Homo sapiens: one gene and its partners. The protein of the gene in region 1 purifies or fractionates together with the protein of each later gene. This does not show direct contact. Each region holds a gene or a part of one and is shown in the gene's direction. Other genes may lie near its edges.

Region 1 (3,500 bases):
CACATAGGTACTGTGCCAGTCAGCATTCAGAGAAGCAGAACCACTAGGAGGTGTCTGTGTATGTGTGTACCTTTATATGTATCTTTATCTGGGATAACCCAGCCTGCTTGATTCCAAAGTTCATTCCCTTTCCACTGTACCCCACTGCTCTGCAGAGGAAAAATAGAATATGAGTCAACCTCTGCAATCTCGCTGAGATTCTAAGATAGTTTAGAACGTCATAAAATTGTAAGCATGTGGTTATCAGAAGTTGTCAAGTAGAGAAAAGAAGGGCAGATAGCTTCACGGTGGGTAGTGGCAATGCCTTTTTCACTTCCTTCCTAGTAGAAGAATCTCATTAAACTTGTCTCTTAGCAGCAGCATTCGAAACTATATACCACAAGCACCCAAAGGGATGATTTTCCACGTCTTGGCTTATTAATGTCCTTAAGTTCTCTGGTTACTCAACCTTCAGGTTTATTAGTTTCTCTCTCAGACAGTGGGCATAGCCCTCGAGTAAGGAGTGGGTGGAAGAGGTCCTGGGGCTGGTGAGATGAAAAATGCATTGTCCTTGGGCTGCAGGCTTCCCTCCAGCATTCTGACTCCTTTTTAGAAACTAAAGATAAGCTTTATTAAATTCTGGGGTCTCTCTTAGCCAGGTAGCTGCGAAGCTGTACATCCACATAATATATAGTGTTTGGAAAGTTTTGAAAAAGCACACCTTGGAGCTTGGGAGTCCATATCTACATTTAATTTTAAAAGGAAATGAAAAATGTGAGAAGTCTCTGTCAATTCCCTGCCCCTACCCCCTCTAAAAATGGAAATGAAATGAATCTATTTGGAAATTTGAAGAGTTGAATTTGAATGTGAGAGACCAAAGCCCCAAGTGAACAAACAACAGATTTTATTGTTTCTTTAAAAATGATTCTTTGGCCCTAATGTTGAAGTTTAATGACTTATTGAAACAATAGAGAAATGATTTAAAGCTGACAAAAAGAATAAATTAAATTGTCATTGGTATAAACTATTAGGTTGAGTGGTTCCTAATAATTTCGGACACTTAAGTGGTTGTAAAGATTTGGTGTGCTGCTGAAAGCGGGTATATTAATAATTCTGGTGTGATTTATAAAAACTAAAATCAGAATTTGGTGTTAGTACACTGTAGACACTTTACTCTTTTAGGAAAAAGGAATTCAATTTTTATTATTACCTGGTTTGTGTGCAGGCGGTAGTCTAAATACCTAGATCATTTCATTCTTACAATTAATTTCCTGTCAGTTATATACATAATTTTATTCCTGTGTTTGTAGATGAGGAAATTGAGCCTCAGAGAAGTTGAAAAAGTCACTCATGTGTAAGCTGGATTTTGTCATGGAGTCCATTGAGTCAGATCTGTTTGATTTTGAAGTCCATGCTTATTATTACTAAACTATTTTTTTGAGTAAGAAAATTCTTTTTATTCTAACATATTTGTAAAGAATCAGTAAGTAACAAGGTCATGGGATGCTATGGTGGAAAGAGCACCAAGCCTTAAGTCAGGGCCTTGGACTTGAAGTCAAAAATCAGAAGGAAGCCGGGTGCAGTGGCTCACGCCTGTAATCGCAGCACTTTGGGAGGCCAAGGCGGGCAGATCACGAGGTCAGGAGTTCAAGACCAGCCTGGCCAATATGGTGAAACCCCGTCTCTACTAGAAATACAAAAATTAGTTGGATGTGGTGGCACATGCCTGTAGTCCCAGCTACTGGGGAGGCTGAGGCAGGAGAATCACTCGAACCTGGGAAGCGGAGGTTGCAGTGAGCTGAGATCGTGCCACTGCACTCCAGCCTGGGTGACAGAGCAAGACTCCGTCTCAAAAAAAAAAAAAAAAAAAAAAAAAAAACAGAAGGAGACCCTGATGCCTGCAGCATATGGTTCTGTCCACCTCCATTTCCTCACCTGTAAAATGGGCATTGTGCCAACACCTGTCTCTCTGTCCTACTGGCTGCTCTGTCTTACTGAGCTCTTGTCTCTGAAAGTTCTGGGTAAATGGCAAAGTGGCATATATCTTTTATCCTGTGTATCTTTAAAAAATATAGTATTTTTTCTCCAGAGTGCGCATTAGGCTTGATTTATATTACGTCATTTAAACTGTCAAATAAATGTGGACCACATATATTAAACAGTTTTTATTCTGGAGGTGGTGATAGCTTTGCAATGATAGGGATTTTTAAAAAGCCCAGAGTGACACCTCAGATTAGAGTTTGCTACTGTTGCATAGGAGTTAAGTAGCCAAGCCATCTTTTCTCATTTCCCTTTAGCTAAAATACAGTGCACTAGGTATTTTTGGAAAATTTCCCCAAAGATCTAAAGTTTGTGGGAGGAAGGAGCGAGAATCACCCTTGATTCCATTACTCCAAGGCACTAGCCATTGTTAGCATATTTCATTCTGGTCTTCTCTAATTGCATTTTTTTTTTTTTTTTTTTTTTGAGATGGAGTGTTGCTCTGTCACCCAGGCTGGAGTGCAGCGGCGCGATCTCAGCTCACTGCAAGCTCCGCCTCCAGGGTTCATGCCATTCTCCCGCCTCAGCCTCCCAAGTAGCTGGGACTACAGGCGCCCACCACCATGCTTGGCTAATTTTGTTTTTATATTTTTAGTAGAGACAGTGTTTCACCGTGTTAGCCAGGATGGTCTCGATCTTCTGACCTCATGATCCGCCCGCCTCGGCCTCCCAAAGTGCTGGGATTACAGGCATGAGCCTGTAATTGCGTTCTTAACTCGCATAGGTTCTTTAATTGCATTTTTAACTCGGATAGGTTCATAATGCAATATAACTTTGTATCATGACTTTTTCAGTTTATGTTACACAGAAATGTTTCTCTATTTCCCTATACACCCAAAAAAGGGCTGCCTACTGTTCCACTATATGGATTCACTGTATTTTACTTCTATGTATCTATTTGGGAGATTTCAGTTGCTCATTATTTTTAAGTGAGTTTTAAAACTCATTTCAATGAATGCCTCTGTGCATGAAACTTTGCCTAAATATCAGAGGACTTCCACAGAAAATGGGTTCCTGAAAAGGCACTTTGAGGGTCAAAGATGTTCACATTTTTGAGGCAATTGATGACATCAGTGTTGATCTGAAGGTCATCCCAGGTTACATTCTCACAGCAATAGCCAAAAAGACTCAATTTCATATTCTTGTTATTTTCTCTGAAAAACATATTCGCTAATTTGTTAGGCAAAAATTGGTACCTTGATTGTTTTAATTTGTACATGGTTGGTAACTATCAGGTTGATTTTGTTTTCTTCTAGTTTTTGAGCCATTTGCAAGTGTGTAATCCTTTATGGATAATTCTGAAATGTAAAAAGCTCTGAAAACAAGTTTTTCTTGTAGGCTTTTGATACCCTCTGTAGGTTGTAAAACTTAACTTGAACTAATGTGAGGTTTTTAATTTTTTTTTTGAGATGGAGTCTCTCTCTGTCTCCCAGGCTGGAGTGCAGTGGTGTGATCTCGGGTCACTGCAAGCTCCGCCTCCC
Region 2 (4,241 bases), on another chromosome or scaffold:
AAATGTCGTATAGTCATACAATGGGATATTATTTGGCAATAAAAATAAATGAAGTATTAACATGTAGTACTTCATATCATGGATGAACCTTGAAAACATTACAGTAAGTGAAAGATAGGATGAAAAAGGCTACATATTATATGATTCCATTTATGTGAAATATCCCGAATAGGCAAGATTATAGAGACAGAAACATGAGGGATTGCTTAGGCTTGGGCGGGGCTTGGGAGGAAATGGGTCGTGACTGCCAATGAGTATAGGATTTTGGGGGGTTGTGACAAAAATGTTCTAAAATTTATGGTAGTGATGGGTCTACAACTGTGACTATATTAAAGACAATTTATTATAAGCTTTATTTATTTATTTATTTTTGAGACGGAGTCTTGATCTGTCACCCAGGCTGGAGTGCAGTGGCGCGATCTCACCGCAATCTCTGCCTCCCGGGTTCAAGCGATTCTCCTGCCTCAGCCTCCAGGGTAGCTGGGATTACAAGCATACGCCACCATGCCCGGGTGATTTTTTGTATTTTTAGTAGAGACGGGGGTTTCACCATCATGGCCAGGCTGGTCTCGAACTCCAGACCTGAAGAGATCCGCCCGCCTCAGCCTCCCAAAGGTCGGGGATTACAGGCGCGAGCTACCTCGCCCGGCCTATTACGCACGTTAAATCGGGAATTGTATGGTATAGTACGTGAATGAGACCTTAATAAAGCTGAGTTGTTTGCGTTATTTATTTGTTTTGAACCTGCTTGGTAAAGATGAACTCTGAACTCAATGAAATTGAATTACCTTAGTGATTCCTCAAAACTCCCTGTTAAGGCTTTCCGGTCCTCTGAAAAGCGAAAGTGGGCCGTGACCATCTTCTAAAAACGCCAAAAAATATGGAATGGAGCCCGGGATTTCAGAGCGTAGTCGCTGGGCTCCCAGGCTGAGCCCGCTCCGGGAGCCTCCAGCCGCCCTTTCCGATGCTCCGGGGCCTCCGAGCAACCCAGCGGGCAGTCCCAAGCCGAGGGCTGAACTCCAGGGAGGAGCGCTCGTCACGCCCACACTGGAGGCCGTGGCAGGCCTGGAAACCCGCCCTGCGGGGTCCTAAGAAGCCATTCGAGCTCCCGAAGAGCGAGTCTTCGCAGCCCTTCCCGGCGCGCTCGCATCTGGCGCTGTCCGGAGCCCGCTCGCGACGCACAGGGACGGGAGGCCCGGTTTCCACGGGAGAGGCTGCGGACTGCGGGCCCCGTCCCGAGGCCGGGGGAGTGGGAGACACCCGGCGACCCCCGAGAGGCGATTCTGGCAGTGGTGGCGGTGGCGGTGGCGGTGGCGGCCTACTCGCCCCCTGGAAGCACCGCCCCGCCTGGGTGGCGCGCGCGCCGGCTCCTCCTCTTCCCCTCCGCCGCGGCCCGCCCCGGCCCGCAAACCCAAACACTCCAGGCGCCCGCCCGCCGCGCGTGATTCTCGCCTCGCCGCAGCCCAGCCCTGCGCGCCTTGCCCGGCGGCCCCCGCCCGGCCGCTCCGGGCCCCTGGCCCCGCGGAGCGATGCTGCTGCTGGCTGCCGCCTTCCTCGTGGCCTTCGTGCTGCTGCTGTACATGGTGTCTCCGCTCATCAGCCCCAAGCCCCTCGCCCTGCCCGGGGCGCATGTGGTGGTGAGTGGCCTCCTGTTGCTGCCCCCCGACTTACCGGCCCGCGCGGCCTTTCCGCCGCCGAGGCCGCGTAGCCTACGTCCCTTTTTCCAGGCCGCGGTCCCCAGGAAGGCATGGCCAAATGGGGAAGGTCACCTGCCGCCGTCCACCCCGGCGCTTTTCCCCCGGCCCCGGCACCCGGCCTCGCGGACCCGCCCTCCGCAGCCTCGGGCTCCTCCTAGGGCCGGAGAGCGTGCGACGGGGGACCCCGCCGGCCGCAGGGTTCCCGGGGCCCCAGGGGTTCTGTGGCTGCTCGTGAATCCATGCAACATCCCTGGGATGTGGATGTTTTGTCCTCAGTTTTTCCGATGAGTCAACTGAGGCACAGAGAGGCTGAGAAACTTTGCCAAGGACACAGCGGTCGGTGGTGTGCAGGGTGCGGCGCGCGGCCCCGGGCGGGGGCAGACAGCGGGGAAGTGGGGTCCCAGCCGCCGGGACCCGCCGAGGCAGCTCGGAACTGGAAGATGGCCTGTGCGAGTGACGGGAAGAGCCGCTGCCAGAGGATTCCAGGAAGTGACTCACCTGGGGAAACTGCTCAGAACCCAGCGGGCTGGCGGTGGTGGCTTAGCGGTATTGGGACGCCTGTCCCGTCTACACTGCTTGTCTCTGAGCTCAGCGTGGCATCTGCTGATTGCTGCTCCAATGCAATCCTTTGCTGTTTTCTAGTGGGAAGGATGAGCTAAACGACAAGGCTTGTGTGCGAGGAATGAAGGAGAGGTGGATAGGTGTGATTTATTTCTTGGCGGAAGCTCGCATATTCAGCGATCCCTGTTCTGCAAATGTGGCACCTTTCTTAAACAGAGAGAATGCCTCCTTGCCTGCGCCCAGCACTTTCCCGTTTGCAGTGGCTTTCTCACGAGCATTCTCGTTTGGATCTCCCAAACCCGAGGCACAGTGAGGCGAGGAGTTAGGAGTAAGGAGGGTTGGTTACAAAATTGGCCGCACACCTCTTCCTGTCCTATCTCTGCACCGGAGATCCGAGCCTCCCCGCTGAGCTGGTATAAAATAAGATGGTCGTTTTTCTTAGTATGCTTTAAATCTGTACAAGGGTTTGTGAATGAGAAAATGTATCTGTTTAATTTCTCCTTTGTAAAGCTATTAGCTTTTTCCAACACCTCCTGTTCCTAATGGGGAAAGAGTGTGGATTCATTACAAAAAATAAATAAGAGAAAGGCAAAACTTGACACTCTAAATTCTGAAAGTTTTACATCCGCAAGAGAACTGCTGCCTCAAAAGCGTGGCTTTAAACCTTGGATCCTTTCAGAGCTTGAGTTTATAGAGCATAACTTTGCAAAAACTAAAGCTAAACGCAGAATGAAAATTGGAATTCCTTATTTGTAAGACAGTTTCACTGAGCCTTGACTCCAGTCCTTCCAGCCCCATCCCGCGGCAGGTCATAGGTGAGATAATAAATGCTGTGTCTGTTCAGGTGGACCAAGAAGAATTTATTTTTACCATCCCGCTTTAATACGCAGGATTATTATTTCACACTCTAAGTAATGTGAGAATGACATGAATAGTTCACATGGTGTCACCATCTGTCTTCTTTTTTAATGTCATAAGAAGAGTGAAAAGTGTAATTGTTCTTGAGATTTGTTAGGAGTTGACTGTGGTATTGTTGGGAGAGGGAGCTGATGGTTAAACTGTCTGCCCATACATAATTAAGAACAAACTTATAACAATTGTTTCATTTTTAAAACAATTTTATATACTAGTGTTTTCTATCTAGTTACGGTAGTAAAATTGCAGGAAAAAAGCAGAAAATCACCCACCTCAGCCTCCGAAAGTGCTGGGATTACAGGCGCGAGCCATCGCGCCCGGCCAACAACAGCTATATTTTTACAGTAATCTGCTGATAACTGGCTGATTACCGACCAAATAAATCTCTTCAGTGGTGGCAGGTTGAAGCTAAAAAGAAGTAAGGGATGCCTATGAGTCCCATAGAGGTAGGTGCATTTGCGTAGGAGACACTTCCCAATGATGTTAAAATCCTAACATGGAGTCAGAGATCTTCCTCCCAGCATGATTTATGTATAACAGTGAATATTAGGAAAAATCTAAATGTCTGGTTATAGGGAAACGTTGAAGTTTTGATGCAGCTATTTGATGAAGTATTGTGAAACCTTTTCGTTTTTTGACAAATAAGACATTACAATATAATTTTTTAAAAACAGGAGACAATACTATGCAATATTATGTAATTTGCATAGGGACAGTGACTAGAACGATATGGCCGGGTACAGTGGCTCACTCCTATAATCCCAGCACTTTGGGAGGTCAAGGAGAGTGCATAACTTGAGGTCAGGAGTTCGAGACCAGCCTGGCCAACATGGTGAAACCCCATCTCTACTAAAAATACAAAAATTAGTTGGGCGTGCTGGCGCACGCCTGTAATCCCCACTACTTGGGTGTCTGAGACAAGAGAATCGCTTGAACCTGGGAGGCGGAGGTTGCAGTGAGCTGAGATCGTGCCACTGCACTCCAGCCTGGGTGACTGAGCAAGACTGTCTCAAAAAAAAAAAAAGAAAAATAATGTTGCATTGTTCACTTATTCAGTGAAATATATAA
Region 3 (2,622 bases), on another chromosome or scaffold:
TTCTACAAGGGGAGCAGTGCATCTGCTTGGAGAGTTGCTAGTCAGAATATTGGACTATTTTGCTTAAGCTACTGCTCCCTTAAAGGATCATTTCTAGGCAACTCTCCCATGTAAACCTGAGATGAAACCACAGGTTCACTCTATAACTAGTAGTCCTAGTTAGCTGTTATGGACGGTATAACTAGGCAATTTGTATTGGTTATCCTAACACAGGGAACATCCTTTTGTTTCTAGGGCATAATAAATGGAGGTCCAAATGCTCATGCCCAGCTCCTAAAGATGATAGTAACAAAGAGGTAGCATTTTGGTGTTCAGACAAGCACTTTCTAGAACATTTGCTTACATTATTGCCTTCCCAGAACCCTCGACCCCATGTCATCTGCCCCAAGTCCAGACGTTCCCTGTGAATATCTCCTCCCTGCTCTGCCTTTGAGGATCAGAAGTTTCCAGAGATGGACACACAGTCTGAACTAGAGAATCAGCTGCTGCACCACAGAAAGATGTCTGGGCTGCAGTCGTTCCCTGCAACCCACTGCCAACACTCCTACTCCTACTTCATGCCCCACAATCTCGCAGTTAGGACAGGCACACCTCTGCAGCTCTCACCTGCCAGCCCTCTCCGGCACAACTTGTTTACCAGCTAACATCCAGCGAGTAGGCAGGTCAGTAGCAGAACTGCCCCAGGCTCCTTCGTCTCCTGGGCTCCATTCTAGGGCTGCTGAATCAAGCTAGCAGGGGCTTAAGCCCAACAGTCCTTTCATTTCTTTGTGCTTCTTCAATAGTTCTGATGCTTGCACTCCTTTAGGTGAGTGGTTCCCAACATTTTTGGCACCAGGGACCACTTCCGTGGAAGACAGTTTTTCCACAGATAGTGGTGGGGGGATGGTTTCGGGATGAAACTGTTCCACCTCAGATCATCAGACATTAGCTTCTCATAAGGAGTGTGCAGCCTAGACCCCTCACATGTGCAGTTCACAATAGGGTTTGCGCTTCTGTGAGAATCTAATGTCTCAGCTGATCTGATGGAAGCTCAGGTGGTAATGCTTCCTCACCCACCGCTCACCTCCTGCTGTGCGGCCTGGTTCCTAACAGTCCATGGACTAGTACTGGTCCGTGGCCCAGGAGTTGGGGACCCCTGCTTTAGGTGAAATCAACAGCTGATATTGCCACATGGTAGCTTTGGCCACTCACTCCCAGAGGTCCAGCCTAGGGAGGTGATAACACCAACCTGAGATTCTCTTTGGCCCCTCTCAGCTCCAATCTTATTTGATTGTCACAGAAATCTCCACCCTTCTCCTTGTTCTTCCCATTTTCTAGGCTGTTTAGTAAGAGGCAAAATACTTGTTCTCCTACTTCTTCATCCCCTGGAGATATGCTTCACATTTATCTAAATTTTTGCAAAAGTGTGATAAACTCCAAGTGGGACCATTCCAAACATTATTCAGCTCATACCTGCGGAGTGGCCTGACCCTCTCAGTTCTGGGAAAGGTGAGAGGGCGCTGCAGTGGCCAGCAGGCACTCAGACTGGGCCTCCTTGCTCTTCATAAGCAATGCCGCACAGTGTGGGGATGTAAGGAGAAGACCAAGATAATGACAATAAATCATGGTTGGCCTTTATTGAGCACCGTTTATGTCAGTTATTGTGCTAGCACTTTACATGCATCAACTCATTTCACTGGAGGGAGGCACCTCCTTAGAACCTGAGGTCACCAGCCAATACACTGGAAGAACTGAGATTTCAGCCAAGGTTCTTTGAAAGCCACACCTTCTCCACCATGGTGGGCACTATGGAACCCTCGGCGGCATCTTTTGTTGATGGTTTTGCTTTTATTTTACAGAAAAATGCTGTGATTGAAAGCCTGCAGGAACAAGTAAACAACGCCAAAGAGAAGATTGTGAGGCTGATGTCAGCTGAGTGCACCTATGACCTCCCAGAGGGGGCTGCCCCACCTGCCTCTTCCCCGAACAAGGACGTCCAGGCGGTAGCCTCGGTCCACACCCTGGCAGCTGCTCAGGGGCCTTCGGGTCACCTCTCTGACTTTCAGAATGATCCTGGCATGGCTGCCCGGGATTCCCAGTGCACTTCAGGGCCCTCCTCATATGCACAAAGCCTTGAGGGGCCTGGGAAGGACTCCAGCTTCTCCCCAGGGAAGGAGGAGAAGATATCTGACTCAAAAGACTTTTCTGATCATTTAGACTCAGGTTGTAGCCAGAAGCCATGGACTGAGCAAAGCCTGGGTCCAGAAAGAGGAGACCAAGTCCCCATGAACCCCAGCCAGAGTCTCCTACCAGAAAGAGGCGGCTCAGATCCCCAGAGACAGAGGCATCTGGAGAACTCAGAGGAGCCCCCAGAGCGGCGGTCACGGGTTAGTTCAGTAATCAGGGAGAAACTTCAGGAGGTCTTACAAGATCTGGGCCTGGGCCCTGAGGCTTCCCTCTCCACCGCCCCCTCTTGTCATCAGCAAACCTGGAAGAACAGTGCTGCCTTCAGCCCCCAAAAGATGCCCCTCTCCAAGGAGCTCGGCTTTAGCCCTTACATGGTGAGGAGAAGGCGGGCAGCTCAGCGGGCCCGCTCACACTTTCCTGGCTCTGCACCCTCATCTGTGGGGCATCGGGCAAACA
Region 4 (4,109 bases), on another chromosome or scaffold:
TGACCCCTTAGCAGTTTTGATTTAGGTCCTCGCCTCCACGCAGGGGCCTGCGGGTGCGCGCGGCCCTTTGTTTCTCTAGAACCCTGCACGATTCGTGGTTTCATGTAGAAACAAGTTAGTGAGCAGTCAGTCAGTAACCACAGGCCGCAGAGTTCCGGGCTGCTCCGTGCTCTGGAACACGGGGGAGGGGTTGATGTCAGGGGCGTGGGTCCTGATCACATGGCAGCAGCCCTTCTTGGGGAAGTCAGCTACCCAGCAGCCTGTAGTCCTCGGCTACCCACCCTCACCGCCTGGGGTCCCATGGTGAGACAGCTGGGTGGGCATCAGGCTTCTGCAGAGGGCCAGGCCGGAGGGAGCTGGGCGAGGGAGTGGGGCTGGCTCCTGGCTTGCACCGGCCTCGTGGAATCCAGGCCTCAGACCTGATCGCTGGCGAAACTGGCTCTGTGCGCTGGAGCCCCTGGTCTTCTGCGTCTGTCCTCCTCCCGGCCAGACTTTACTCCTGGCTCAGCGACAGGTATTTGCTATGGAAGAGCTGTCCCTCCCTCCCCTCGGTGGGCCTGGGTCCACCTCCACCTCCTCTTCAGGTCCGCACCTTCCTCCCCTTTAAAACACCAGCCGGGCGCAGACCCGTTCTAGGCTTTTCCATGGTGCTTCCGCCAAAGCTTGTGACCGAGTCCTTCCCGCCTAGGGCTGGTGGGCCTCCCCTGCTGGTAGGTCTCTCTTCGCTTTCTTTACTCAGAACTGAAGCTCTCATTCCCCACCCACCAAGGAAAAACAAAAGGGAAGAAGCCACAGCTGGCCCCGGCTTGCTTTGGCACAGGTGTTTCCCCCCGGCCCCCCGTCGGGCACCCTGGTTCCTGTTCTGTCCCTGCCCCACGCGACCCTGGGGCTCCCACCCGGGCTCCTCAGCCTCCCCTGGGTTGGGGTGGGGGGACTGGCTCCCAGCCCTTGGCCTAGGGTTTGGTGAACGCCTTTCCTGGACTGCGGGCCCACTTCAGGCGCGGCTCCAGGCTGGGCAGCTGCGCTGGAGGGCCGAGGGCAGGGGTGGGGTCGGGCGTCCACCCTCAGGGTTGCGCCAGGGAGCCGGAAAGCCGACTCCCGAAGTTGGGGTCCTGGGAAAACTTGGGTCCTGGGTTGACTGAGAAGCGGCGGGGAAAGGAGGCGGGCCAGGAGGAGGGGGCCTGGCGGACGCCGGCCGGGGGGCGGGGCGCGGCGGGGCTGTCGGTCACGCCCCTCAGTCCGCCCCGCCCCGCCCCGCCTGCCGGGGAAGGGCCACGTTGCCCGCCCGGCCGTCCGGCCCCGGCGCGCCGCAGAAAGGGCTGGCGAGTCGAAAGGCGAGGCGGCCGCGGCAGCGCTTGGGACGCGCCTGGGCACCGGGCTCGCTCCCTGCGCCCCGGAGCAGGCCAAGTTCGGGGCCAGGACGTCGGGAGGACCTGGTGAGTAGGTGTCCGGGGACGGAGGTCAGACCGGGGGAGGCCTCGCGGGCGCCGAGAGGGAGCCCAAGGGACGTCGGGTCGCCCCAAAGCCCCGGTGCCCATGAGTGCTAGCGAGAGGGGGCTTGGCTGGGGAGCGGCCCGGTCCGACCCGGTGCCAGCTGCGCGTTAGTCCCTTCCCGAGCCGAGAGGTTGGAACTCCGCCTTCTGCTTTCGGAATCCCGGGCCTCCAGCTGTTAGAGGAAGGGCGGGCTCCGCGGACTGGGGAGGATGTTGTGAAACTCGGCCCCGGGCGTCCGTGCGTGCGGGGCAGGGAGGGGGTGGGATTGGGGAGTGGCCTTTCCCCCCTAACCTCACTCCAGCATCCTTTCCCCAAGTTAATAGAGGCTGATTCTCCTCAGCAGAAAGGAAATGTTGATTCAGTGTTGAAATATATATATAATAAGTTGGCAAGAAAACTTTTCTTCCTGTTTGCTAACGTGTGTGGAGTAGAGAGCCCCGGGACGTGCAGTGCCCGCGTCTGATAAACTCTGAAGTAGAGGGACTGTGGCTGGCCGGCTCCCTGAAGGCTGAAGCTTCACTTTGGTTAACCCTTGCTGCTGTAGTGGGTCTGCCGTTTTGTTTTAGAACATCACTGGCTGAGATGTTGCCCAGCTTTATTTTCAGTCATTTACGGTATTTTTTCAGGCCGTGTAGCCTTTGCTCTTACGTGCTCACATCATCCAGGATCTGCCTTCCATCAGCAATCACTGCGTCCTGGTCCTTCCCAATTCTGGGGACCATTGAGCTCACCCATTTCCCTGCTTCTGTGTCTCATTCTCACTGTTAGAAGCACTGCGGTATGCCTGACCTCAGTGGCCTGTGTTAACAAGGGAAACTCATTACTGTTCGGGGCAGTAGGGAAATTGTCACTGTCGTCAGTATCCAGGCAGTGGGACCTTGTGATGAACCAAATCAACCCTGTCACCTTATAGATGAGAGAACTAAGGTACAAGTGGGTCAAGTGACTTGTCCAAAGTTGCCTGGCTTGCTGGCTGGATCGCCTGAATCCCAGGCCTCATGCCTTTTGTGGCACTTGTATTTAGCTCTTCTTTTCCAGGATGAATAACCTGCATCCCTTCCCTCCTAGGTCTTATTCTCTCAACTCTTGAATTATTTAGTGTATCTTCTCTGACTACCTTTCTTTTTTTTCCGTCCTGAAATTATGGGCCTGGTACATGATACAGGAGTCCAGCCAAGGTCTAAGAACGAACATGAAAGCAGTTCAGTTAGAGTTCCATTACCTGTGACATGTCTATATTTTCTGGAATTTTTACGTAGTGCTTTTTAACTTTAAGCAAAGCAGAGATAGAAGGGAAAATCTGTTACCATTTCTTCCACTTCTGTACTTAATTTTACAGCTAAATATAACTTCTCGCTTATTGCTCATGATTGGAAGTTGACTATCTGGTGTTCACTTGCTATTTAAGAAACATTTTTTGCCAGATAAAGGAAATAGGCTGGAGAACACCATGGTATCAGAGTGTTAGAAAGGATCTCACAGCTCCTAGGCAGTCCTTCAAATGCTTCAGAAACTGAGTGAGCCCCATAGGGGCAGGTGGCGCCTACCCAGAGCCACCTCGGTTTTAGCTGAAGGGTTTTGTACTGAAAAGACTCACTTCTCATCTCCCACCATGGTGCAGATGTCTTTGTACCTGGTGGTGTGGATTGGCTGTGTCACCTCCCTAAAGGAGTTGTGAAAACTCTAGAAAGTCAAAGCCAGTTTTGAGTCTGTGCCTTGCATGCCAGTCTCATAAATGACATCATTAGGAACTCAGGTCAGGATTAAGGGCAGTTGTTCTATTTAAAAAGGAAGGTGTAGCAGATTGTATTTTCCCTCAAGGGCCTCACCCGTAAGTATCCCCTTCCACATGTAGTTATAGTTTGACATTGTCCACTTCCCACCTAGTGGTGGGGTTTATGATTCTCTCCCCTTGCATGTCAATAGGGACTTGTGGTTCCCTTGACCAGTGAGTAAGACAGACCTGATCCAAGGCTGAATCAGGAACAGGATACACTTTCACCTGGCTTGCCCGCTTTCTTGGAACACTCACCTTTGGAATGCAGCCACCACTTCCAGGACATTTCCAGGCCACATAGAGGGGTTCTAGTGAGCACTCCTGCTGATAAGGTCTCAGCTGCTGCCAACATCATCCTACAGACATGTGAGAGAATGTGAGAGCCTCTAGGGGCATCTGGCCCTCAGCTTTTGAGTCTTTCAGCAAGGCCTCAGGCATAGTGGAGCAGAGACACGTCATCTCCTCTGTGCTGCACTGTCCACATTTCTGACCAATAGAAACTGTGAGGAGTAAGTGATAACTATTGTTTTAAGCCACTAAATATCGAGGTAATTTATTATGCAGGAGTAGATACCTACTAAGGAAGGAGACATGAGTGGAGACAGGGCCTCAGTGTTTGGACTTGGAGCTGAGCACAGAGGGCAGGGAGGGCACTTGCCCTGCTTGTCAAGATTATCTAGAGTCTGTTTCTCTCATTGCTTCAGGTACTGATGGCTGCATAATGAGTCACCCCAGAACTTAGTGGCTTACAACAACAGAATCATTTTATTAACATCTCAGCTATGTGGTTCTTGCTTGTGGTCTTTCACGCCATTGCAGTCAGCTGGGGCTGGGATAA
Region 5 (3,500 bases), on another chromosome or scaffold:
CGATTCTCCTGCCTCAGGCTCCCGAGTAGCTGGGATTACAGGCATGCACCACCACACATGGCTAATTTTTGTGTTTTTTTTAGTAGAGATGAGGTTTTACCATGTTGGCCGGGCTGGTCTTGAACTCCTGACCTCAGGTGATCTGCCTGCCTTGGCCTCCCAAAGTGCTGGGATTTCAGGCGTGAACCACCTCAGCTAGTCGGGAGGCTGAAGTGGGAGAATTGCTTGAGCCTGAGAGGCAGAGGTTTCAGTGAGCCGAGATCATGCCACTGCACTCCAGCCTGGGCAACAAGAGCGAAACTCTGTCTCAAAAAAAAAAAAAAAATTATATTCAATGAATATAACTGAGTGAGTAAAAGAATGAGCCAAAGACCTGGAAGAGATCTAAGGGGTCCATGATTCCAGATTTCAGGCGGGGCCACATTCAACTATCATTTCTTCCAAATTTTTGCAGTGGAATACAAGTTTGAAACCTGGTTATCTCCTTAATTCTCCATGTGCTGTGAGGAGATTTGGCATAAATTGAACAATTGGACTTGAGTATTTCCATCTAATATTAAACTACCTTAAGTACTTTGGCACTGCAGAAATGTAAAGCATCCCTTTTATTTGTCATTTCTAGGGGAGGTAACTCCAGGACTATCTCAGGTGGAATATGCACTTCGCAGACACAAACTAATGTCTCTGATCCAGAAGGAAGCTCAAGGGCAGAGTGGGACAGACCAGACAGTGGTTGTGCTCTCCAACCCTACATACTACATGAGCAACGATATTCCCTATACTTTCCACCAAGACAACAATTTCCTGTACCTATGTGGATTCCAAGAGCCTGATAGCATTCTTGTCCTTCAGAGCCTCCCTGGCAAACAATTACCATCACACAAAGCCATACTTTTTGTGCCTCGGCGAGATCCCAGTCGAGAACTTTGGGATGGTCCGCGATCTGGCACTGATGGAGCAATAGCTCTAACTGGAGTAGACGAAGCCTATACGCTAGAAGAATTTCAACATCTTCTACCAAAAATGAAAGGTAACAAATGGGAGCAGAAGTCACATTACAAACCAGATTGGGATTAAAACCTTTCTTGCCTGTTTAGACAAGTCCTTAATTTTGTTATCGTAGCACCACCATGAAAAGACCATGAGCACCATGAAAGAAATGTAAAGTCTTTTTCAGAAGATTGAGCTTCTTTAAAGATTTCATTTATGCCTGGTGCATTGGCTCACGCCCGTAATCCCAGCACTTTGGGAGGCCGAGGCAGACAGGTTCCTTGTGGCCAGGAGTTCAAGACCAACCTGGCCAACATGGCGAAACCCCGTCTCTACTAAAAATAGAAAAATTAGCCAGGCATGGTCGCAGGCGCCTGTAATCCCAGCTACTCAGGTGGCTCAGGCAGGAGAATCACTTGAGCCCGGGAGGTGGAGGTTGCAGTGATCCGAGATCATGCCACTGCATTCCAGCCTAGGCAACAAAGCAAGACTGTCTTAAAAAAAAAAAAAGATTCATTTATTCATTTGCAGGAGGTTACAGTGAGCCAGTGAGCTAAGATCCCGCCACTGCACTCCAGCCTAGGCGACAGAGCAAGACTCCATCTCAAAAAAAATAATAAAATGAAAGTATATAATTTAAGAGTTTTTGGTATAGTCATAGAATTGTGCAACCATCACCACAATGAATTTTAGAACATTTCAATTAAAAAAAAACTCCATGTTCACTGGATTATTCATTAATGGAGACTGTTACCTATCCTAGTTTGAAATCTCACAGAGAATTTTCTTTTAAAGCAAAGGATAAGCCAGACACAGTGGTGTACGTCTGTAGTCCAGCTACTGGAGAGGCTGAGGTAGAAGGATCGCTTGAGGCCAGGAGTTCAGGTCCAGACTGCACAACGTAGTGAGACCCCATCTCCAAAAAATAAATAAATTAAGGACAGGATGGGCATGGACCACTCTTCAAGATTACTGACCAGCTTCTTGATATTTGACAACTACTTCTTATCTTAGTGCTCTTGCCAGCTCTTCAAAAGGAGGTACTGTTCTCCAAGAACGATCCATGCATCACAGCATCAGAATCACCTGGTAATGCATATTAAAATTAAAAATGCATAATATGTAATAGAAATTAAAATCTCAGGCCTCCATCCCCTATCTACTGAATCAGAATCTGCATTTTAACAGATCTTTTGTGGTTCATATACAGTTGAGTTCTTTTTTTGTTTTTTTTTAGGCAGGGTCTCACTCTGTCACCCAGGTTGGGATGTAGGTATAGTGGCACACTCATGGCTCACTGCAACCTCGAACCCCAAAGCTCAAGCAGTCTTCCTGCCTCAGCCTCCAGAATACTGGGACTACCTGGGCACACCACTATGTCTGGCTAATTTTTTTTTATTTTTTTGTAGAGATGGAGTTTCACTTTGTTGCCTAGGCTGGTTTTGAACTCCTGGCCTCAAGTGAGCCTCCCACCTCAGCCTCCTGAAGTGCTGGGATTACAGGTGTGAGGCACCGTGCCTGGCCATAGTTGAGTTCTTGTCCCTCAAAGAAATTACTTTCTCTACAGTTATTCTGGTGAAATTTTAATCAATCCGAATGTTTTGAGATTTTTCTTCTGGGAATTTTTTCAGAACCTACACCACATTATAAACTATCTTTAGTAATTCTTAAAAAACTTTAGCTCTGGGAAGTATTTTATTTTTTGAAGTATCTTATTTGGAAAATAAGATAGATGCTCAAGTTTAAAAATACTGATTTTAGGTCAAGATAATGTATAATTATAAAGTTTTTGTTTGATTTTTCTTACATGGGTTACAAATCATATCTGAAGTTAGCTTCTAAAAGAGAATTCCAAAAATGTTTTTCACAATCATAAAATATATTAGACTGTTTCCTGTAAAGCCTCTTTTGGAAGAAAATACTCATTTGAATATGTAAGTTCTAATACATTTGATTAAATTCTTTTTATTTATAGAAATGTTTTCCATTTTATAGATAATTAGCCTGTTCAATTCATTGAACTTTCTTATGTCTTCAAAATCCACATAAATGTGGGGCATAGAATCATTTTCTTTCTAGCTTTTTTCTTACATTAGTTGCTACTTGTCATGTTCTACTGTCTAAGTTTTATTAATTCAGTATAGTTACAATCTCATGTAAAATAAATTTCTCAAAAGTACTTCTCGGTCACCATTCCTTTTTTTTTTTTTTTGAAACAGAATTTCGCTCTTGCCCAGGCTGGAGTGCAATGGCACCATCTCGGCTCACTGCAACTCCTGCCTCCCAGGTTCAAGTAATTCTCCTGCCTCAGCCTCCCGTGTAGCTGGGGTTACAGGCACGCGCCACCATGCCCGGGGAATTTTTCTGTTTTTTTTTAGTAGAGACAAGGTTTTACCATGTTAGTCAGGCTGGTCTCGAACTCCTGACCTCAGGTGATCCACCCCCCTCAGCCTCCCAGGGTGCTGGGATTACAGGCGTGAGCCACCGTGCCTGGCTAAAATCATATTTAT
Region 6 (3,500 bases), on another chromosome or scaffold:
TTCCAGAGGCCAAGAAGATGACCACCTTTGAGTATCTCATTAATAACCGCAAAGAAGAGAGTTCAAAACATCAAGCAGTGAGGAAAGATCCATACGTGCAAATGGACAAAGGAGTTCTCCAGGTACCACCTGTCTCTCTGCTCCATTTCTCCAGGCCTGGGACAATGTCTAAGGTCACTCGGTGGTTGGGACCTCTCAGCCATGCTCCTTTACTTCAGGGCCGATGCAGCCCATGGACTCTGCTGTGTGTGTGTCTGTGTGTGAGGCTCTGTGCATGGGTGTGTCTATGTGTCTTTGTGAACATAAACACCAGTCATGCACCACGGACTTCCTAGTGCAAAGATAGGAAAGGAACTGAGTCTCCTGGACATTTCTATACTGCACGATACATCTTCCAAAGTTGAAATGTGCTTTTTGCATCTTTTTTTTTGAGACAGAGTCTCGCTCTGTTGCCCAGGGTGGAGTGAAGTGGTGAAATCTCAGCTCATTGTAGCCTCCACCTCCTGGGTTCAAACAGTTTGCCTACCTCAGCCTCCCAAGTAGCTGGGATCACAGATGTATGCCACTACGCCCGACTAATTTTTGTATTTTTAGTAGAGATGTGGTTTTAACACGCCAGGCTGGTCTCAAACTTCTGGCCTCAGGTGATCCGCCCGCCTTGGCCTCCGAAAGTGCTGGGATTACAAGCATGAGTCACTGTACCTGGCCTGAAACATGATTTTTAACTTAAGGAAGTTAGTTCCCTTTCCGGTTAAGTGACATGAATTATTATAACTAACTCAAGAAGACATAGAAAGTCTAAATAGACATAGAACAGCCAAGAGACTAAACTACTAATTTAAAATCTCCCAGTGAAGAAAAATCCCAGGCCCTGTAGTCTTCATGCATGAATTCCAGCAAAGATTTAAAGAAAAAATACAATACAACCTACACACAGACTCTTTCAGAAAACAGAGAAGGAAGCAACACTTCCCAACTCATTCAGCAATGCCACTATCAACCTGACACCAAACCAGATATTCATAAGCCAGTACATTCAGGAAACACAGGCAGAGATCACTGATAAGACCTTGGGAAACCAAATCGAGCAGCACGGGGCAGGAATGTGCACTGTGGCCAAGTGATATCACTCCAGGGGTAAGCAGTGGCTTAAGGCCTAGGAATCAATTACTACAGCTCAGCACGTTAGTCCAATAGAGAACGGTAACCACGCAATCATGCCAATCAATGCAGAAAAGGGTTTGTTAACAGCAAGTTCCCATTCATGATTTTTAACAAATCTCAGTGACCTAGGAATGATAGGAAAGCACCCTGTGTACCTGACGTGACATTTACTGGTGAAAGGCTTGTGACCCTCTCTTGGAGGCTGGGCACAGGTGATGACGCCCTTTCCTCCTACTTCTGATATCACAGTCACATTCTGGCCAGCCCAGCATAGCAGGGAAAATGAAGGCACAGAGAATACAAAATAAAACTGTGTTTATTTGCAGACAATGAAACCTAAAAAGTATGTTTTAAGACCTAGTTAAGATAATTAAATCACTTAACAAGGATGTGGGGCACATATTAAAATACACGCTCGCACATCTCTATCCACCAGCAATGAAAAATCCGGGTTATATTTTTAAAACTTCCTTTCATAGTCTAATAAAAAAAGAATAAATTTGACAAACCTTATGCAAATATGTACACTGAAAGCTACACACCATGACTGAGAGAAGTCAGAGACGCTCTATTAAGTGAAAAGGTGTACAGCATTCATAGATTGGAAAAAAATACTATTAAAAGGGCAATTTTCCCCAAAACTTATCTACAGATTTACCACAATCCCTGCTGAACCCCAGCAGGCTTCTGTTTTAGCAGAAATGACAAGGTGGTCCTAAAATGTATATGCAAATTCAAAAGACCTAGGCTACTGTACTAGCCAAATGATTTTGAGAAAAAATAAAATTGGAGAACTTACACAACCAGACTTTAAATGTTACTATAAAGCTGTAGCACTAAAGACAGGTGGCGCTGACAGAGAGAGAGACATAAAGCTACAGTAATAAAAACAGTGTGGCACCGACAGAGACAGATATAGAGAAATGGACCAGAAGAAAGGTCCAAAGTTAAAGCTTTCATTTATGGTCAATTGACTTTAAATAATGGTACTAAAATCATTAAATAGGGAGAAATTATAGTTCAACAAGTGGTACTAGAACAATTGGATATCCACATGGAAAAGAAAAAAGAATGATTGAGTTCTTCATACCTGTACAAAGATTACCCAGGATCACTTCATTCGCCACGGAAGAATTAGCCCCAAATCCATCTGACACCTAAACTTAAAAGCTGAACATAGAACACTTCTAGAAACAAGCATAGAATGAAATCTCTGTGATCTTTAGTGAGACAAAGCTTGTCTTTGATCTGACACCAAAATCACTGCCTATTAAAGAAAAAAATCATAGTTTGGACTTTACCAAAATTGAAAATATTTGCTCTTCAAAAGTCACCATTAAGAAAATAAAAATACAGGCACACATGAGAGATACTGCAGGTTTGGTTTTAGAAAGCCACAATAAAGTAAACATGTCAGTAAAACAAGTCACATGAATTTCTGGTTTCCCAGTGCTTATAAAAGTTACGTTTACATGACGTGTGCAACAGCATTATGTCTAAAAACTATGTGTCTGAATTAAAAGTGCTTTATTGCTAAAAGCTGCTTACACAGACAATTGAAGTGAGCACACACTGCGGGGAAAATGGCGCCGACATACTTGCTTGACCAGGGTCACCACAAACCCTCAATTTGTGAAAAAACACAGTATCTGTGAAGTGCAGTAAAGCAATGCACAATAAAGCCAGGTGTTCATTCCTGTGCAAGCCACAGGCAAACAAAATATTTTCAAGTCTTAGACTGATGTCCAGAATACACAAAGACACAAAGAGCTTTCAAAGTGCAATTGTAAAAAAACAACAAACAAAAACATAAACAAACAGAAAACTCAGTTTTTCAAATGGGCAAGAGGGCTGGACACAATGGGAAGCACCTATAATCTCAGTGCTTTGGGAGGCCAAGCAAGAGGATTGCTTGAGGCCAGGAGTTCAAGACCAGCCTGAGCATCTCTACAAAAATAAATAAAAATACATACATACATATAAAAAATGGGCAAAAGATTTGAACAAACTCCTTACCAAGGTAGATGTAGATGTATAGATATATGGATGCCACATAAGCACATGGAAAAAAATGCTCAACATCATTCTACATCAGGCAGCTGCAAATAAAAACCACAATCAGATACTACCACACACCCAGGAGAATGCTTGTCATCAACAAGACAGACACCACCGAGGGTTGGTGAAGTTGTAGAGAAATTGCAAGTCTCCTGCGTTTTTTTGCTAGTGGGAGTTAAATGAGGGTGTAAAGTGCCACCACACTGGAAAGCAGTTTGGCATTTCTTTAAAAGATAAATGTCTAATACATGACCAGAATCCCACTCCCAGTTTCTCAC
Region 7 (3,500 bases), on another chromosome or scaffold:
GTAATTATTTGTGGGAAGTGTTTAGCTTGTATAAAATGATAGTTGTTATTATCTCTGACTTTTTTTTACCCTTCCCCTTGTCCTCATATTTCCCAATTTTTGGTATTGCCATGAAATATGAAATACTATGTGATGTGAAAGCTTGTGACACTTAAAATAGTTTGAATCTGTTTTTAATGCTTAGTGGAACATTATTGCATTTATTTTATTTTCGCATCTTTTTTTTTCTTAGTCCAGGCCTCATTCAGGTTTAGATGGATTTAGGGATTTATGTTGGACATCGTAGTATAACTGTAAGGACCATCACCATGATATTGCTAATAATACAATATGATGGCAGAGAGGGCTGTGCCAGTTAGGTTTTATTGCCCTGCATCTTGAAAAGTCTCAATAAGTATTTACTATTTACCTCAGACTAGAAAATTGAAAACTTAATACTAGGTTTAAGGTGTGATTCACCTAGCTTTGACACTTTGAAGGCAGTGCAATATATTTCTATTCTTGACTTTCCCTTCTTTTTATTTTCATTGATTGTTTACTAGCCACACATTTTGAGTTTAAAGTTGTGGTTTTCAAATACAGATTCCAGGGCCTTACCTTTAGCGCCTCCATAAATGTGAAGGACTTCGTGCTTTCAATAGAGTGGTGCTTAATAGTGTATTTTTCCATTGATTGGGAGACTCAGCTAAGGTGACATTTTCTATGAGGCCAGCATTGGGCCAACAACCTCATAGTGTTGTATCAAATAAGGCTTACATTTCTCTGCATGTGGGGAAAATGGAAATAATAGTGGCTTAATAAAATCCTTTTTCCCCCTTATATAACAAGAAGACTGGAGGTGGCAGCCTAGGTGCTGTCAGGCACCCAGGCTCCTAGTTTTTTCATGCGACCACACTTAGCAGGTGACTCTCCTTCTCATAGTTGGAAGATGGTTGTTCCACCTCTAGACTCATGCTTGTGTTCTTGTCCAGAAGAATATGGCAAAAGGACAAAGACACATGACAGCTGAGTTGGTTCTCTTTTAAAAGGCTTTCTTTCCTAGATGCCTTACTCAGTGACTTCCACTTCTATTTTACTGGCCAGAACTGTATAATTTGGTCATTTGCAAGGCAGACTGCAAAATGAAGCTTTAGCTGGACACATTATTACTTCAAACAAAATAGGTCAGGATTATCTTACTAAAGAAGGGGAAATTGTATGTTTGCTAAGCAACTAAGAATATTGGCCTCATTTTTTTTTAAAATGAAAATAGTCAAATAGGGTATTGCAAGTAAATAATTTAACCTGATGCATAGTAATCAGTTAATAAATGTTAGCTTTAATCTGAAGAGGTAGTTGCCTACTGATTAAGAGCATAATGTTGAAACTCAGGTAGTTCTTATTTCTAGGCCCTACTCTGCCTAACTAACTGTATGACCTAAGTTTTACCTTAATTACATTGCTTTACTTACATTGTCTTGTAAGACCATGAATACCTATCACATGGAATTATTGTAATGATTAGATGAAAAGAAGAAATGTAAGTAAAGAAAGTGCTCAGCATAGACTTGGCACACAGAATGGATGCTCAGTGAATGTTAATGTACATGATGGTAACGATGAAATAACACCCATGAAGACTGGGCTATTTCTGTGTGTGTTCTGCCCCAAACAAGATTTTTTTTCCTTGAAAATATACCCCACTATGTGATTAATTCATTCAGCAAATATTTCTTGAACTCCTGTTATGTGCCAGGCACTGTTCTGGATGCTGGAGATAAAACAATGAAGCAAACACAAAAAATGCCTGCTTTCACAGAGTTTATAATCTAGAAACTCTAAAGAAGAAAAAGCAGGGAAAGGGGTTAGGGACTGCTAGGGGTGGAGGTGGGGTTTCAGTTTTAGGTCAGGGAAAACCTCACTGAGAAGATGACAGTTGAGGAAAGACCTGAAGAAGGTGAAGAAGTGAATGATGTGGTTATCTGCAGGAAGTTTGTTCCAAGCAGAGGACAACAAGAACAAAGGTTCTGAAGCAGAAGCATGCTAATGTGATTAAGGAATGCTAAGGAGGTTTGAGGGCAGCTAGAGCAGAGTAAATCAGAAGGTGAAGAGACAGATAGGTGAAGAGGTTAGAAAGGTAAGGTGGTATGGATGCTTGGTCCTGATTGTCAGGTTGTAAGTTGTTGTAGGAACTTGGCTTTTGCTTTGAGTAAGACTGAAAATCATTGCAGGGTTTTGAACAGAGATTTAACGTGACCTGACTTTCGTTTTAAAACTCAGGCTGCAGGCTGGGCGAGGTGCCTCACCTGTAATCCCAGCACTTTGGGAGGCGGAGGCAGGTGGATCACATGAGGCCAGGAGTTTGAGACCAGCCTGGCCAACACGGTGAAACCCCATCTCTACTAAAAATACAAAAATTAGCTGGGTTTGGTGGTGCATGTCTGTAATCCCAGCTACTCGGGAGGTTGAGGCATGAGAATCGCTTGAACCCGAGTGACAGAGGTTGCAGTGAGCCGAGATGGCGCCACTGCACTCCAGCCTGGGTGACAGAATGAGACACTGTCTCAAAAACAAACAAACAAACACCTCAGGCTGCAATATGAAGAATAGTTTTATAAGGGCACAAGGGTGGAAGGAGGTTATCCAGGGGAGAGAAGTAGTAGTGGAGATGGTGAGAAGTGGTCAGATTCTGGATATAGCATATTTTTTGAAGTTAGGAGGATTTGCTGTTGGATTAGATGTGAGAGAAAGGGAAGATAAGATGATTCCAAGATTTTTGGCTAGAGCATCTGGAAGAATGGAGTTGCCATCCGCTCAGATGGGAGATCACCAGAGTGAACAGGAGAGCGAGTGATGATTCATTGCAAAACCATCAGGCTGCTTGAATACTTACTTGAAGCATATGGCAGTGTCTTTATTTTCATCTTTGTATGGAGAGAATAGCATGATTTTTATGATGATGACTATTCTTACAGATGTTTTGCCAGTTAATTTTCAACATGACTCTGACAAGAGACCTTATTTAGAAAAGGGGTTAACAAAATTGTAAATTCTTATGTTTTGTGTGGTTCAGGTGACAATACTTTAGTCATCTTTCAAAACAGCCTGGGCTAGTGCTTTTCTTCAGTGAATGCAAAACCTTACTAAAATATACTTTAAAATCTTTAGACTATAAGCCTATTATAGTGATGGCTGGGCACAATTTAGGAGAAAATGTGTTCATTTGATTTGATTCATTTAATTCATTTTTTCCTGACAGGAATATCTACTTTTACATTATCTCTCTCTTTTTTAAAAAATTTATTTTTGAGGTGGGGTCTCGCTCTGTTGCCCAGGCTGGAGTGCAGCAGTATGATCATGGCTCACCTCTGCCTCCCAGGTTCAAGCCATCCTCCCACCTTAGCCTCCCAAGTAGCTGGGACTACAGGCGTGTGCCACCACACCCGGCTAATTTTTGTATTTTTTTGTAGAGACGGGGTTTTACTGTGTTGGCCAGGCTGGTCTCAAACTTGTCAGCTCAA

Evidence for each region.
Region 2: the proteins of RELL1 (region 1) and KDSR purify together in Homo sapiens (affinity purification with mass spectrometry; 2 studies listed by BioGRID and IntAct, with this or other methods). This does not show direct contact.
Region 3: the proteins of RELL1 (region 1) and GPR156 purify together in Homo sapiens (co-immunoprecipitation; one large-scale study listed by IntAct). This does not show direct contact.
Region 4: the proteins of RELL1 (region 1) and MGAT1 purify together in Homo sapiens (affinity purification with mass spectrometry; 2 studies listed by BioGRID and IntAct, with this or other methods). This does not show direct contact.
Region 5: the proteins of RELL1 (region 1) and XPNPEP3 purify together in Homo sapiens (affinity purification with mass spectrometry; one large-scale study listed by BioGRID and IntAct). This does not show direct contact.
Region 6: the proteins of RELL1 (region 1) and ZDHHC11 purify together in Homo sapiens (co-immunoprecipitation; one large-scale study listed by IntAct). This does not show direct contact.
Region 7: the proteins of RELL1 (region 1) and OXSR1 purify together in Homo sapiens (affinity purification with mass spectrometry; 2 studies listed by BioGRID and IntAct, with this or other methods). This does not show direct contact.

The regions. Positions count from the first base shown.
Region 1 is NC_000004.12:37,679,877-37,683,376, reverse strand, and holds part of RELL1 (RELT-like protein 1 precursor), read left to right. Parts: intron 1-3,500. UniProt on the Homo sapiens protein: Induces activation of MAPK14/p38 cascade, when overexpressed. Induces apoptosis, when overexpressed.
Region 2 is NC_000018.10:63,364,407-63,368,647, reverse strand, and holds the start of KDSR (3-ketodihydrosphingosine reductase), read left to right. Parts: upstream 1-1,441; 5' UTR 1,442-1,529; coding exon 1,530-1,637; intron 1,638-1,647; exon of another isoform or gene 1,648-2,398; intron 2,399-3,518; exon of another isoform or gene 3,519-4,241.
Region 3 is NC_000003.12:120,167,601-120,170,222, reverse strand, and holds part of GPR156 (probable G-protein coupled receptor 156), read left to right. Parts: intron 1-409; exon of another isoform or gene 410-662; intron 663-1,838; coding exon 1,839-2,622. UniProt on the Homo sapiens protein: Orphan G-protein coupled receptor involved in the regulation of hair cell orientation in mechanosensory organs of the inner ear.
Region 4 is NC_000005.10:180,800,007-180,804,115, reverse strand, and holds the start of MGAT1 (alpha-1,3-mannosyl-glycoprotein 2-beta-N-acetylglucosaminyltransferase), read left to right. Parts: upstream 1-1,309; 5' UTR 1,310-1,436; exon of another isoform or gene 1,437-1,440; intron 1,441-4,109. UniProt on the Homo sapiens protein: Initiates complex N-linked carbohydrate formation. Essential for the conversion of high-mannose to hybrid and complex N-glycans.
Region 5 is NC_000022.11:40,881,148-40,884,647, forward strand, and holds part of XPNPEP3 (xaa-Pro aminopeptidase 3), read left to right. Parts: intron 1-622; coding exon 623-1,030; intron 1,031-3,500. UniProt on the Homo sapiens protein: Catalyzes the removal of a penultimate prolyl residue from the N-termini of peptides, such as Leu-Pro-Ala. Also shows low activity towards peptides with Ala or Ser at the P1 position.
Region 6 is NC_000005.10:833,987-837,486, reverse strand, and holds part of ZDHHC11 (palmitoyltransferase ZDHHC11), read left to right. Parts: exon of another isoform or gene 1-6; coding exon 7-122; intron 123-3,500. UniProt on the Homo sapiens protein: Endoplasmic reticulum-localized palmitoyltransferase that could catalyze the addition of palmitate onto various protein substrates and be involved in a variety of cellular processes.
Region 7 is NC_000003.12:38,172,037-38,175,536, forward strand, and holds part of OXSR1 (serine/threonine-protein kinase OSR1), read left to right. Parts: intron 1-3,500. UniProt on the Homo sapiens protein: Effector serine/threonine-protein kinase component of the WNK-SPAK/OSR1 kinase cascade, which is involved in various processes, such as ion transport, response to hypertonic stress and blood pressure.